Linked DNA regions of Homo sapiens: region 2 is linked to region 1. A link means that fine-mapping ties the variant in region 1 to the expression of a gene that starts in the linked region. Tissue or cell type: whole blood. Region 1 holds a variant in brackets; the other region holds the start of a gene. All regions are shown on one strand. Distances are from middle to middle.

The links. PIP is the estimated chance that this variant, and not a neighbour inherited with it, causes the effect.
Region 2: it holds the start of MTF2, and the variant in region 1 is fine-mapped to the expression of MTF2 in whole blood (TOPMed, PIP above 0.99). The same link has a PIP of 0.9 or more in monocytes after R848.

Annotation. Positions count from the first base shown.
Region 1 is chr1:93,038,680-93,047,403 of GRCh38, forward strand. No RefSeq gene overlaps it. Among named protein-coding and RNA genes, the nearest start is that of MTF2, 36 kb to the right of the region's middle. RefSeq lists an enhancer at 3,814-4,073. The variant G/A (reference allele first, on the strand shown) is at 3,946.
Region 2 is chr1:93,074,466-93,081,693 of GRCh38, forward strand. MTF2 (metal response element binding transcription factor 2) reads left to right here and starts at 4,818. Exons shown (of 15, transcript NM_007358.4): 1 at 4,818-5,066. The coding sequence starts at 5,062. RefSeq lists enhancers at 4,381-4,630, 4,567-4,861.

The DNA of each region.
Region 1 (8,724 bases):
TCTTATAGAACCTAAACAGGATTCTGTAGGAAGGGTACTATTCTTGTTGGCAATGAAAACACAAGACATTCATTATAGTCGTGAGGATTGTTATGAGCAAAATTGAAAGTAAAACAAGGCAGATTCATAAACTGATTTCTCTGTGCTTCTTTTCTGTACTTCCATAACATTCTGTACTTATAGGGTTTTTAAGGTCTAATTCCTTCACTCCTCCTTGAAAGCAAGAAATGTGTCATTCATGGCTGGGACTGTATTCAGTACCTGACATTATCCCTCATACACAGTATGCATTTAAACATGATGCTGAATGAATAGAGGAATAAACAGATCTCCATGGAGCTCAGGTTCGGCTGCAGGATTAATCAGAGATGGACACTTAGTGTGACATTGTCACTGATATATGTTATCAGCAGGATGTATTTTTTTTCTCCTATGAAGTAGTTCTTATTTGAGTCACAACTGGAGGATGGTTTTAGATCCTTGGCAACATAGGGCAGCAGCTTGATTCCTTTCTGGCCTAGAACCTTAAATAATAAAGTATTTTCAAAAGGAAATTAAAATGCATTGGAAAGATATAACTTTATAACTTCTATAACTCATTATTAATAGATTCCAGAACAGATCTCTGAACAATTCTTCACAGTAGCACAAGAACCTGTTATAAGCAAATGCAATCAACCCTCCAACACTTTCTGGAAATAACTTTAGTTTGTATGAGAATTATTGTTTTAAAATTACTTTTTGCTCTCTATAGCTTCACTATTTATCTTGAACATTCTGGATGAAAATTGTAGCCTTACTTTTCACACAGCTAAAAATTTAAGTTATCTAGAATATACTTTAAAAAGCATTATGGATGCCGGGCACTGTGGCTCATGCCTGTAATCCCAGCACTTTGGGAGGCCAAGGAGGGTGGATCATTTGAGGTCAGGAGTTAGAGACCAGCCTGACCAACATGGTGAAACCCCGTCTCTACTAAAATACAAAAAAATTAGCCAGGCATGGTCGTGGGCACCTGTAATCTCAGCTACTTGGGAGACTGAGGCAGGAGAATCACTTGAACCCAGGAGGCGGAGGTTGCAGTGAGCTGAGATCACGCCACTGCACCCCAGCCTGGGCAACAGAGAGAGTGAGACTCCCTCAACAACAACAACAAAAAAAAGTGTATGGATAATGGAGATACAGTCTTCTCTCTCCATCTCCTCACATCCTTGTAATCATGAAAATGTAGCTTTCTTTCTTCTCTTGTTTCCATTCTTTTTATTATCCAATCAGTATTCCATATTAGCACATTGAAAGCTCCACATTGTTTTTACAGTTGCATAGTATTCCACTTGTGAATATACCATTATTATTTAACCAGTTATCTGTATATAAGTGGTTCTCAATTAGAGAGTCTGGGAGGTTTTGTCCCTGACTGGGGTCATTTGGCATTGTCTACAATCATTTTGGTCTGGGAGTAAAGTGCTGCTCACATCTAGTAGGTAGAGGCCAGAGATGCTACTAAATATGCTACAATGCACAGAACAGTCCCATAACAAAGAATTATCTGGTCTAAAATGTCAATTAGTGCTGAGATTGGAAAATTCTGCTATGGATGGACATTTGGGCTATTTCCAATCTTCATGGCTATACAAGCAATGCCTCAATAAATGACCTTGTAAATTTGTCATTTTGTATAAATGCAAACATATTTTTAGAATGAATTGCCAGAAGTGATAGTGCTGGGTTGAAGAATACGTGCAATTGAAATGCCTTCTAAATCACCCCCAAAGGGATGTGGATTCTGCACTTCCAACAGTAGTTTATTTATTTCTACAATCTCTTGAACAAAGTGTATTGCTACGCTTTTGTTTTTTCGTAATCTGAGAAGTGCAGGATGTTATTTCAGTTACCCTTAATTTGCAACTGCCTTATGATAATGTCTTTTCATATGGTGAAGGGCCATTTGAATTTCTTTCTTTCTTTCTTTTCTTCTTTTTTTTGAGATGGAGTTTCACTCTTGTTGCCCAGGCTGGAGTGCAATGGCACGATCTCAGCTCACCGCAACCTCGCCTCCTGGGTTCAAGTGATTCTCATTCCTCAACCTCCCAAGTAACTGGGATTACAGGTGCCCACCACCACACCGGCTAATTTTGTATTTTAAGAGATGGGGTTTCTCCACGTTGGCAAGGCTGGTCTCAAACTCCTGACCTTAGGTGATCCATCCGCCTCGGCCTCCCAAAGTGCTGGGATTACAGTCGTGAGCCACTGCGCCCAGCGTGAATTTCGTTTTCTATTGCCTTAGGGTGAGACGAAGACAGTTGTCTGAACACCGGGTGGGGTTTTCAGAGAGTCTGTGACTATAGCCAGGGTTTAAACAGAGTAAAGGAATCTGCGCTTTTATCAAGGCACCTGAAGATACAAAACTCAAGAAATCTAGTCCAAGCCAATGTATTAGAAAGAGAAGAATCAAATGGCAGGGAGACGGGACAAGCTCCAGGTTCAAAAGGCCAGAAGAGGGTTGGAGCCAGAGTAAAGGAGCCTAGAGTCCAGAATCTGCCAGCGGAGTCAGGTTGGAATAAAAATATATTGGAGCAAAAGCTAATTGTGTGAAATGACTAACATAGCAGCAGCTGGCTTAGAAGGAATAATGGCTAGGTAGACACACTGGCTGAACAGCTTCCTTTCTCCTCACAGAATTTTGTTATTTCTTCTATTATAGTATTTAACTTGTATTGCAATTGTCATGCACAGTGCCTGGCATGAAATTAACCCTTTTTTTTTTTTGAGACAGAGTCCCTCTCTCTCGCCCAGGCTGGAGTGCAGTGGCGTGATCTCAGCTCACTGCAAGTTCCGCCTCCCGGGTTCACGCCATTCTCCCGCCTCAGCCTCCGGAGTAGCTGGGACTACAGGCGCCCGCCACCACACCCGGCTAATTTTTTATTTTTATTTTTTTATTTTTAGTAGAGACAGGGTTTCACCATGTTAACCAGGATGGTCTCGATCTCCTGACCTCGTGATCCGCCCGCCTCCGCCTCCCAAAGTGCTGGGATTACAGGCGTGAGGTCCCGCACCCGGCCCTTATTCTTTATCTTCTTATCCCTTATCTGACACTAATCTTGAAGTTCTGCCTTAGCCCTCCTCTAAGAATCTCTATTTGCACTATAAGTAATTGGTTTTTTTTTCTCTACGTAACATTCTCCATCACCATCTCCAAATATACTAATTAACTGTGACAGTTAAGGTGTTTATATTCTTCTAATTGAAATTAGTAAATATACTTGGCTGATGATCAGTGCAGGATATGCAGTTTTATTTGTGTGTCTTAATGACCAAAGACTTAGGGTATGAGGAAAGTCCTACTCTTGTAAAAACAAAACAAAACAAAAACAACCCATGTTACTGTTACCAGTAGAGGCTCTTGACTGCAAGCTGCCCAGGTTCTTCGCATTTTGAAGAATTGGGCAAAACGCACAGCAAAGCAAGGAAACAATGAAGCCATGAAAGCAGAGATTTATTGAAAGTGAAAATACACTCCACGGTGTGGAAGCCCTCCCAACAGCGGCTCAAAGGCTCTGGATACAGAACCTTCTTGGGTCCAAATACCCGCTAGAGGTTTCCCATTGGCCACTTGGTGTTCACCACATGTAAATGAAGTGGTGGTCCACAATTAGTCTGATTGCTTGCAGACAGCAAGCAATCAGAGGCTGAAGTCAAGTTACAAAGGTCACACTCCTATGCAAACATATGGTTGGTTGTGGAAAGCAAACAATCAGAGGCTAAAGTGAAGTTATAAAGTTGCACTTCTATGCAAATGTAGCCTTGGCTCATAATCATAATCACTGAAGTGAAGTTACAATGTTATATTCCTATGGAAAGGTCTGATTGGTTGCAAAAAGTAACCACTCAGAGGTAGTTTCAGTTTCCCATCTGCTGTGTAGAAAAGGTTGGGGTTTGCAAAGG[G/A]AGTAGCTTCTGGTCCTTTTGTTACGTAGGTGCAGAAAGTTGGGGTTTTTCTTTCGATTTAGTTCTAGGAAGTCAGGGTGAATCAGCCTTAGGTTCCTTGCCTCCAGACCCTATTCTGCCTCATTACGATATTCCTTTCACGTTCTTTGGGACTATTCGGTGTTTCACATGAGATTGGCTCTCATGCCTGGTGAAATACTCAAATTCAGTTATACAGATAACCTTGTCTTGAAAAGTTCTAGAAAGCACTACTGAAACTTTAGTCTCCAGCTTTATTTCTTCTGGACTACTTGATACAAACTGTCTCTCTCTCTTTTTTTTTTCTGAGACAGGTTCTTGCTTTGTCATCCAGGCTGGAGTGCAGTGGCTCAAACATGGCTCACTGCAGCCTCCGCCTCCAGGGTTCAAGCGATCCTCTCACCTCAGCCCCACAGGTAGCTGGGACTACAGGTGCGTGCCAGCATGCCTAGCTATTTTTTTGTATTTTTTTAAAGATGGGGTCTTGCTATGTTGCCCAGGCCGATCTTGAACTCCTGAGCTCAAGCAATCTTCCCATCTCGGCCTCCCGAAGTGCTGGGATTACAAGTATGAGCCACCACACAGAACCAGTATGATCTCTTTTCATGGTACTTAAAAAATTATATTACTAGCCTTTGTTCAACAAGCTTGTATAAGTGTAATGACCTATTTTATAAATTATTTTTATTGTATTTTAAATTAGATGTTTATTGATGACTTAGCAAGAAATACATTACTCTCAACACTAAAAGCCTATTAACATTAAATTATAAAATTTAGTATTTCCAGAATATTTCTTGCAGACACCAATCCCATCAATGTTTCAACTCAATTTAATAGGCATCTTGTGAAGAACTGGTATAGAAAATCAGAGTTTTGCTCAATGCCTAATTATCATAAATTGAAGCATTTATTGTCTTCTATGTTCTTAGTACCATATTTAGTTATAGGACAATTCATAGTCCTATATGGTGCTATGGTATAGCAATAGGCTATACCATATAGCCTAAGTGTGTAGTAGGCTCTACCATGTAGGTTTGTGTAAGTGCACTCTATGATGTTCACACAAGGACAAAATCACCAAACAATGCTTTTTTCAGACTGTACCCTGTCGTTAAGCAACATATGACTGTGTTTTATATGGGAATATGGACACCAAAATGTTATTCTCTATGTGTATTATGAGTAATTTTTATTTTTTGTTTTATACTTTTTATATTTTTTCAGAAATAACATCAATACTTTGTAATCAGAAAAATATATTTTAGGGATAAGTATTGGCTTGTACAATTTTTTTTTTGCTTTTGTGAAAATACAGAGGAAAAACTAATGTTATATTATAACGAAAATGGTATATGTTAACAAAGGAATCCTTTTACAGAAACTCCTTAGAAATAAAAGGAAAATCAAGGCCAAAGCAAAAGTCATGTCATGACTTTAAAGAACTTTGCCCCCTAGGATACAAAATCTATTAATTTTAACGGTGGGGCTACTGTTTGTAAGAGTACCAAACATTCTGAATAGATAGAAGCCTCCAGCTGTAAACTGATGGACTTTTGTGGTCTCAAAGCAGTTGAGGGTTTCTACCCTTAAAATACCATTTCTCATGTTACAGCAATTGAGAGTGTGCAAAATGTATAGAACAGATTGTGTTTCACTCTATTTGCGTGGCTTGTTGAAGTTAGATTAATACTGTGGGAATCCTTACTCCATTCATAACTCTGAATATGTACTTATGGTATTTATATATCTAGAATTTAAGTAATCACTCTTGCCCACCATCTGTACACGGATAATTTTTACCCTGGGAGCTATTGGTTCCAATGTATTGTTTTGACATTATACGCTATAGTTGATTCAAACAGAAGTGAATACCACAACAGTTGGCACTCTAAAATAAAATCCAGACCAATAACTTTCACAATTTTGTGGAATCTAATATGCCTATTACCCACACTGAGTCCACTACAGAATTAAAGTGAAAACTTGGAAAAGTAAGAATGAGATCTATATAAAAATTATCATCCCTCACTTGACAAAAAATTCTCATTGAAATCAATTGAGACTACAGGGTTCAATCTAGGAAAGTTGTATAGACCTAGAGTTCCCCAAATTTCTCAACTATGTCTGTTGACTGATATTTATGGCTTCCCTTTTCATTTATATTCTTTTTCTTTTCAAACACAGTGTAGTATAACTTGTTTAATTTTTTTAAAGTCTGAAGACTCAAAAACAAAACTAAACAATTTGAAAGCAAAACCTTACTGGCAGTGCAGATGCAACTTACAAAATATGAGAATCAGATGTGGAGATCTTTAGGGATTATAACATTTTAGATGATGATGATGATAACAATTATTATTATTATTTGAGACAGGGTCTCACTCTGTTGCCCAGGATGGAGTGCAGTGGCGTGATCTTGGCTCACTGCAACTTCCACCTCCTGCGTTCGAGAGATTCTCCTGCCTCAGCCTCCCAAGTAGCTGGGACTACAGGCACGTGTCACCATGCCTGGCTAGTTTTTGTATAGGTTGATGCAAAAGTAACTGTGGTTTTTGCAATTTTAAAAGTTATTTAATATTTTTGGTAAAGACAAGGTTTCACCATGTTGGCCAGGCTGTTCTTGAACGCCTGACGTCAAATGATCTGCCTGCTTTGGCCACTCAAAGTGCTGGGCTTACAGGTGTGAACCACTGAGGCTGGCCCCTTTTAGAAATTTTAATAGTAGCCAAGGCATGATCGGTACCAAACTATCTAATTCCAGCTACAAAGGTTGTTTGAAAACTCATTTTTAGAAGTTTGATAGCCTGTCCATAATCATACCACTTCCCACAAGCTTGAAAAAAAGAAAAAAAAGCAGGGGATAGCACATGGATTATACAAAAGGATAAAAGGATTATTATTATGTATTTATTTATTTATTTTTGAGACAGAGTCTTGCTCTGTCACCCAGGCTAGAGTGCAGTGTCGAGACCTTGGCTCACTGCAACCTCCACCTCCCGGGTTCAAGTGATTCTCATGCCCTAGCCTCCCAAGTAGCTGGGATTACAGGTGTGCGCCATCACAACCAGCTAATTTTTGTATTTTTAGTAGAGTTGGGGTTTCACCATGTTGGCCAGGCTGGTCTTGAATTCCTGGCCTTAAGTGATCCACTGACCTCAGCTTCCCAAAGTACTGGGATTACAAGTCTAAGCCACAGTGCCTGGACAAAAGGATTATTTTAAACATAACTAATGTTGCTTATTTACAAGTTTTTATGTACTTCTAAATTTCAATATATTTAAAGTTTTCTGTTGACTAATTTAATCAAAACCTGTCTAAAGTTGAAGAGAGAAGATCCTGAGAAGTTACGTATTGATTAATTCCTAAACTTAGTTGTAATGTATATTGACCTAACTCTAACTTTATCTGAAACTAATAGGTCAACCTAATATTAGGTCAACATTATTATTATTATTTGTTTATTTATTTAATTTGTTTTGAGAAGGAGTCTCACTCTGTGGCCCAGGCTGGAGTGCAGTGGCACAATCTCGGCTCACTGCAAGCTCCGCCTCTGGGGTTCACACCATTCTCCTGCCTCAGCCTCCCAAGTAGCTGGGACTACAGGTGCCCGCCACCATGCCCGGCTAATTTTTTGTATTTTTAGTAGAGACAGGGTTTCACCGTGTTAGCCAGGGTGGTCTCAATCTTCTGTATGTCAATATTGCTAACTGAATACTAGGTCAATATTATTACATTGTTCTAATTCTGAATGTTGATGCCCATATGGTTAGCGCTAATAACCGTTGAATATGTCTGCAGTTTATCAAGGAGTTTTATCTTGTTCTAACAACAAAACAAAAGAAAAAGAAAATAGAAAACAGTGGGCATATTCAATCATCAAAGGACCCAATAACAGAGAGAAATGTAATTTACATTTCTTGAATGCCACTATACATCAGACATTATGCTAGGCATTTTACATGGATTTATTGCTTAATCTTCCCAACGATCCTATGAGTAATTATGAGTAATGTATTATTATCCTATTTTACAGATGAAGAAAATGAGACTTGAAGGCAGAAAGTGGAATGTAGATGACACTCAGCTCTTCTTTGAGATGAAAACCCAAATGCATGAGGATAAATCAGAGGAAGTTATTATAAGACAGGGAGGTTGAGAAAAATGTGTCACATGAGTTTCAGCACGAACAAAAGCAAGGTACTTTCATTTAAAATGTATTTAGAGGATAATGATAAGTCATTATTAACTACTCCTCTAAAATAATAATCCTCAATGGTTACAGCCAATATGCCAATAGAAGATTGGGCATTGCCAAAAATTAAAGGAAAATTAAATTGAAAACACTGTCCTTCCTTTCAACAAACTATGATATATCCCCATCTAAATATTCTACCCCATTCTGCTTGTTTCATCTCTAGAAATGAATAATGGAACCAGCCAGGCATGGTGGCTCACACCCGTAATCCCAGCACTTTGGGAGGCAAAAGTGAAAGGTTGGCTTGAGCCCAGGAATTTGAGACCAACCTGGGCAACATAGTGAGACCTCATCTGTACCAAAAAATATATATAAATAAATAAGTAAATTAGCTGGATGTGGTGGCACGCACCTATGGTTCCAGCTACTCTGGAGGCTAAAGGTGAAAGCCACAGTGAGCCATGATCACGCCACTGCACTTTCAGCCTGGGTGACAGAGCAAGGCCCCATCTCAAATAATAATAATAATAATAATAATGGAACCAAGGAAGGCCCAAATGAAA
Region 2 (7,228 bases), 35 kb after region 1:
TTTTTTTTTTTTGTATTTTTTGTAGCGACAGGGTTTTGCCATGTTGCCCAGGGTGGTCTCAAACTCCTGGGCTCAAGCAATCCTCCCACCTCAGCCTCTCAAAGTGTTGGGATTACAGGCAGAAGCCACCACACCCAGCCACAAGAAGATTAATACAGACCTATACCTCTCACACTGTGCACAAAAAATAACTCGAAATGGATCATAGACTTACATATAAGAGCTAAACCTATAAACTTCTGAAGAAAACATAATAGAAAATAGACTTTGGTAAAATAATTCTTAGTTATAACACCAAAAGCATATGGTATTTAAAAAAAGATAAATAGGATTTCATTGAACTTAAAATAAATTTTTTTCCCTTCAAAATACATTAAGCCCTGGCAAGGGTGGCTTGCACCTGTAATCCCAGTTACTTGAGAGGCTGAGGTGGGAGGATGGCTTGAGGCCAAGAGTTCCAGGCCAGCCTGGGCTACATATAGAGATCCCATCTCTAAAAGAATTAAAACAAAATTAGCTGGGAGTGGTGGTGTGCACCTGTAGTCTCAGCTACTTGAGAAGCTAATATGGGAGGATTGCTTGAGCCTAGGAGTTTGAGGTTATGGTGGGCTATGATCAGTGCCACTACACTCCAGGCTGGGCAACAGAGTGAGACCTTGTTTCTGGGGGAAAAAGAAAAGACATCATTATGAAAAATGAAAAGACAAGTCATAAAGTCATAGACAGGAAGACAATATTTGCAAATCATGCTTCTGTTAAAGAACCTAAATCTAGAATATATAAAGAACTCTTACAAGTTGATATAAGAAGATTGTCCAGTTAAAAAATACATAAAATATTTGAGTAGGCACTTCACTAAAGAAGATATAAGAATGGCTAACAAACCAAAGATGCTCAATAGCACTAGCCATTAGGGAAACCACAATGAACCACTTCACTCCCACTGTTTTAAATTATTATAATAATTTTTTTTTTTTTTTTGGCCAGGTGCAGTGGCTCATGCCTGTAATCCCAGCACTTTGGGAGGCCGAGGCAGGCAGATCACAAGGTCAGGAATTTGAGACCAGCCTGACCAACATGGTGAAACCCAGTCTCTACTAAAAATACAAAAATTAGCCGGGCGTGGTGGCACGTGCCTGTAATCCCAGCTATTCAGGAGGCTGAGGCAGGAGAATCGCTTGAACTCAGGAGGCAGAGGTTGCAGTAAGCCAAGATTGTGCCACTGCACTCCAGCCTGGGTGACAGAGAGAGACTCCATCTAAAAAAAAAAAAAATTATTATTTTTTTAGAGACAAGGTTTCACTGTATTGCCCTGGCTGGTCTCAAACTTCTGGGCTCAAGCAATCCTCCAGCCTTGGCCTCCCAAAGTGCTAGGATTACAGGTGTGAGCCACCATGCCTAGCAATCCCTACTGTTATGAGTGAAATCAGAAAGATAGACAAGTATCAGTGAGGATATTGGGAAACTGGAAGGCTTACATATTGCTTACACTTTGGAAAACAGTTTGGCAGTATCTTAAAATGTTAAACATAAACTTATCATACAACTCTGTAATTCCACTTCTAGGGATCTACTCAAGAAAAATAAAAAACGAATGTCCATACAAAGATTTGTACACAAATGTTCATAGCAGTCTTATTTATAATAGCCCCAGATTGAAAACAACATAAATGTCCTTCAACTGGCGAATGGATAAACAAAATGTAGTACATTCATTCAAATGGAGTCTATTTGGCAATAAAAAGAAATAACTACTGACTGGTACAACGTAGATGAACCTAAAAAATATTCTGAGTGAAAGAACCCAGATGCAAAAGACTACTTATTGTATGAAACCATTTATATGAAATTGTCAGAAAGCAGATAGCAGATTGCCTAGGGCTTGGAAGGAGGGTTGACTGCAAATGCGCATAATGAATTTTTTGGGGGTGATGGAAATGTTTTAAACGTGGATTGTGGTGATGATTGCACAATTCTAGTCACTGCTTATTGTAGACATTTAGGAACTGAAAGCGACAGACATTCTATCTCAACCCAAGCTTCCATGATTACCATAGCATGGGGGAGGGAGATGTGTCTCTGCTTCTTAAAGATTCTCCTGAGAAGTGATACATGTCACCCATTTTATTGGTCAAAGCAATTAACTTCAGGGGTGCAAGAAAGTGCAAATTTTTTTTTCTTTTTTCTTCGAGACAGAGTCTCCCTCTGTCGCCTAGGCTGGAGTGCAGCGGTGCAATCTTGGCTCACTGCAATCTCGGCCTCCTGGGTTCAAGTGATTCTCTGCCTCAGCCTCCCAAATAGCTGGGATTACAGGCATGCACCACCACGCCCGGCTAATTTTTGTATTTTTAGTAGAGACAGAGTTTTGCCATGTTGGCCACGCTAGTCTGGAATTCCTGGCCTAAAGTGATCTGCCCCCCTCAGCCTCCCAAAGTGCTGGGATTACAGGCGTGGCCACCGCGCCCGGCCAGAGTGCAATTTTACTATGTGTCTGGAAGAGAGGGGAACCAGAATACTTATGAACCACCCTAAGGATGATCACAGAAATACATACAACAATAAAGGGTACAGTTTACTCTGATCAGAGTTCACTCTATATTTCCGAGGAACCACAACTACAGCAGGTTTTTTTTTTTTTTTTTTTTTTTTTTGAGGCAGTCTCACTGTGGCTCAAGTAAGCCTACCACCTCAGCCTCCTGAATAGCTGGGACTACAGGCAGGGGCCCAGCTAATTTTTAAATTTTTTGTAGAGACAGGGTCTCACTATGTGGCTCAGACTGCATACTGGTCTGGAACTCCCCAGCTCAAGTGATCCTTCTACCTTGGCCTTTCAAAGTACTGGGATTACAGGAGTGAGTTGCTGGTGGCTGGCTGACAGGTATTCTTTATACTTGACTGTGACTCCCTGAGTGTCCTTAAATCTCTGAACACTTGGTTTGCTTACACCTTTGTACTCACACGTTTGCACAGAAAAATAACACTTTTTTTTGATAGAGGCATAATTTACTTCTCTAATGTATAAGGGATTAGAATACTTTTGTGTAGCCAAAGAGCCTAAATTATTAGAGTTTCTGAGGTGGAAATGAATGCGTCTGAAGTATTGAATCACTGAAGATTTTGAAGTTGAGGCTTGGTGACCACTTTACAGAAATGTTGAGGAAAACTTAGACCAAACGTTCTCCAAAACAGATGTTCTCTGATTAGGCTTAGCTGCACAGCAAATATATCTGTTTGTGCAATATCTTTATTAATTTTTGTACTGCATCTACTTTTTAATATTTTATTTATTTATTTACCTTAATGCCACGTTCCTGAATGGGAATGCATCTACTTTTTTTTTTTTTTTTTTGAGATGGAGTTTTTGCTCTTGTTGCCTAGGCTGGAGTGCAATGGCACGATCTTGGCTCACCACAACCTCTGCCTCCTGGGTTCAAGCGATTCTCCTGTCTCAGCCTCCCGAGTAGCTGGGATTACAGGCATGTGCCACCACACCTGGCTAATTTTTGTATTTTTAGTAGAGACGGGGTTTCTCCAAGTTGATCAGGTTGGTCTCGAATTCCCGACCTCAGGTGATCTGCCTGTCTCGGCCTCCCAAAGTGCTGGAATTACAGGTGTGAGCCACCGCGCCCGGCTGCATCTGCTTTTTTTAAGTCAAAATTTTCCTCAGCCAACGTATGAAGGTCACTTAAGACGAATTTATGAGAGACGATGATGAGAATTGAAATAAAGTGAAACCTGAAAGGTAGTAGGTAAGTAGATACAGTGAGGGTACAGTAAGAAGACAGACTTAAAAGATTAGGACTATTATTCAGGAGAAGCAGAGGAGTGGAAGGGTATGACCACAATATTTAAAGTATTGAATGGTATTGGATAAAACGAATATGCTTATTTGCCAAATTCTGAGATCACAGGCTGAGGGAACCCCTTTTGAAGTATGAGCCAAATGAGCTTAGACCACAAAAGGTACTTTTTCAGAGACAGAAAAAATATGGTGTTCACTATCCCTGTGGCATAATATGGGACAAAAATATAAAATGGCTTTAAAAATATTTTGACGAAATTATAAATAAAGATTCCACACGTGGCTACTAAGAGGAGCTGGGTTGTATCTAGGTGTAAGTTAAAGAGACAAGCATACAATCTCACAGCTTGTCAGTTGGGACCCCTGTAGGCAGCAGAATCTGGGCAGGCTAAGGGTCTGCACTAATAAACAATTCTGTTTTCTTAAACCATTTTGCAGGGGACTATTCTCAGATTTCATTACAACTAGGAAGGACTGCAAAGCGGGTAAACAGAAAACAACCTTTCATCGTTAGGAAAAAAATCGTCTGAAAGTCTTTCATAAAAGCAGCTCCTGATAAGGAGTTTGGGACTGGACAGTGAATCGCTGAATAAAATTTAATCTCGACATCCTGGGTCTTCTCCCCTCTGAAGGAAATTCTAACAGCAGGCCTTAGGATGAAAGTAGAGGAAACGTGCTTCAGTTAAGGTTTTCTCCAGGGAAAAGAAATCGGCCCAGCAAGATGCACAGAGCACCGTTACGACCACGCACACCGAAGGTCGCACACGACCCTTTTCCTGTATAACAGTGCCAGCCTGCCGACGATCAGGAGCGCAGCTTTCACTATTGTGTTAGCCCCGGCGGCGGAAGGACTGAGCCTCACTGCAACGTTAAAGAGTCCTTCTTTGTTCAGCCCCAGTCGGGGACGCAGGGCGCGGTGTTCCTCCGCGCTCGCCGCGCAGTCCCTGCCCCCCCGCGGCTTTGGAGAGCTGCCATTCGGCACCGGAGTCGCTCCGCGCTCCCAGAATGCACCGGCAGTCCGCGGGAAACCAAAATGGCGAGGGGCTGTATTGAAGTGGGCTGTGTTTGAGGCCGGTGTAAGAACGCTCATTCTACCCCCAACCCTTGTCTCCAAGGACCTCGGTTTGTGCGTGCATATGTGCCGGGTACCCGGTGGGGCGGGTGCCCAGTAAGTGCTCGGACTCGCAGGGGAAGCGCCCACGGGGACGGATTGGTTGTTTTTTCCTGTATGAAGCGGTTGGCACCACTGAAGTGACCGAATGAGGTGAGAGACCTTGGCCTGGGAACCGACTCTTCCGGAGGAGATGGGGGTTGGGGGAAGGAGGAAGAAAGGAAGCAAGTATAAAAGGGAAAGATGGAGGACCAAGGTGGGGGTGGGGGCTCCTGTATGTGGGTGCCTTTGCATTTATGTGTATATTGAAAAGAATGGATGAAGAGGAGTAGTCAGTTGAGTGTTGGGAGAAAATAGGGACTAAAGGAGCGAGGAGGTCGTTGGGGGAGTCTGTTGGAGGAACAAGATGAAACGTTGAGACGGGGAAGCTGTGTTTGGAGGGCAGGAAGGAACCTGGGGGCGGGAGACGGTTGGAGGGGCAGGATGAACCTGGTGACGAGGGGGTGGGGAGCCGAGAGGAGGAGCCGTTGGGAAATGGGGGCTGAGGGAAATGTGGGGAGCAGAGTGGAGGGCTGCCTGGGACCTTAGCAGTGCGCAAAGGGAAGTAGCAGCTTGGAATCGGAGGGTGGAATTGTATGGAATTGGAGTAAAGGGGGTCGAGTGTAAGTGCTGGTAAGGATAAGGGGAACACACTGAAGTGGAGGTTGGAAGCACAACCTGAAAGCTTAAAGGGAAGCGGTGGGAGGGAAAGTGAGATGGGGGAAAGCTAGGTAGCTTATATTTGGAGCTCACCAAAAATATGAGGCTTTTCTTGTGTTTAATTAAACCTAACTCATATAATCTACGTCTAGGATGTAGATTTGTATTGTATTCATTTTTACAACTGAGGTAATTACGGCTCAAGGAATTTTAACCAATTTGCCAAGATTTCTTAACATATTTCGGTAGTGCCAGAACTCTAACTCTGTGTTTTACAATCTGGTGTCCTTGGTTGCTAGAATTTTTCTTTGGAAGCAATTAGAGGGAACAGATGGATTTATCGGGGTAATCTGACTAACAGCAAGGGTTTGTGAACAATGGGAAAAGGCTTATGGAATGTTACTCTATTCTTTAAAACATTTAACTTTGGTTAAAGATAGAAACCATGTAACACTAACTTAAATGTGAAAACCTAGCTAGGCCTGTGTGTAATACATAGGAAGGCACCATGTGAGGTCAGTACAGAGCTAGAAATATGTAAATAGTACCTGATTTAATTTGACTTCAGAACCTCCGGTAGTAATAGTAGTTACTTTCTCCTTCAGATGGATTCCATGTGACCCTCCTGTATACCTAGCCTACAAGCTGGTTTCAATTTCCATGGTTTCATTCTCTCTTGGGAATTCCTTTTTTTTTTTTTTTTGTCAGTAAATTTCAAAGATAGTTGTATGTAGAAGTAGTTAATGTGGATAAAATGTAATTAAATTCACAATAACCTTTTTAAGATTTGAAAATGCTTTAAAGGGAGTTGTTTTGACTGATGGCTTTAAGTGCCCTATAGTTTAGTTATAACTTGAGAGGGAATACAAAATGACTTGTTTTTTCAGATTCCTAAATATAAAAATGTATTTGAATTCACATTTTAAAATTAGTTCACCTGCAGTTTTTTAAAGTGCTAAAAATGTTCTAAATATTTGAATTAAGAACACACCTGCTTCCTGATACTACATTTATAATGTTAGTGGGTATTAACGGAAATGTGTAACTATCAGGATGAAATGCATACACAGTTTTAGAACTAGTTGTACAGAAATCATCTTGTTAAGCCTTTTTTCTAGATGACACAATTATATTTAATAGTTCTTTAAATCATCCCCGTTGCCTCAAAGCTCTGTTAGGAAAGACATTCTGTGTATTTTACTGTGGGTCATTAACTCTTTGATTTCATGGATTATAAATATTCCTTTTTGTGGGATCTTTGAAGGATAATTTGCTTTAATCATTTTTCAGCATAATCTTTACATCTGACTTGAGGAAACTGACAGTATATTGTTAATCTATATTTTAACAGAGAAATTTGCCTCTGAGGAGTTGCCATGACCAACATCTGTAGCTTGATGGTTCTGAAAGTAAAACTTAACTGCTGTTTTAGTTAGTCGACACTTCCATGAACGATCTTTGATGGTTAATATTTTTGTACTTTGTTTTCCCTGTTCTTCAGGAAAATTTGTTTATTGCTGTGAAATCCAGTATAACCATCCTAAATTGGAATGTAAAAGTTTCCCTGTGGATATTTCTTATATGTTAGAGTAGTGCTATCTAGTAGAAATTTCTCC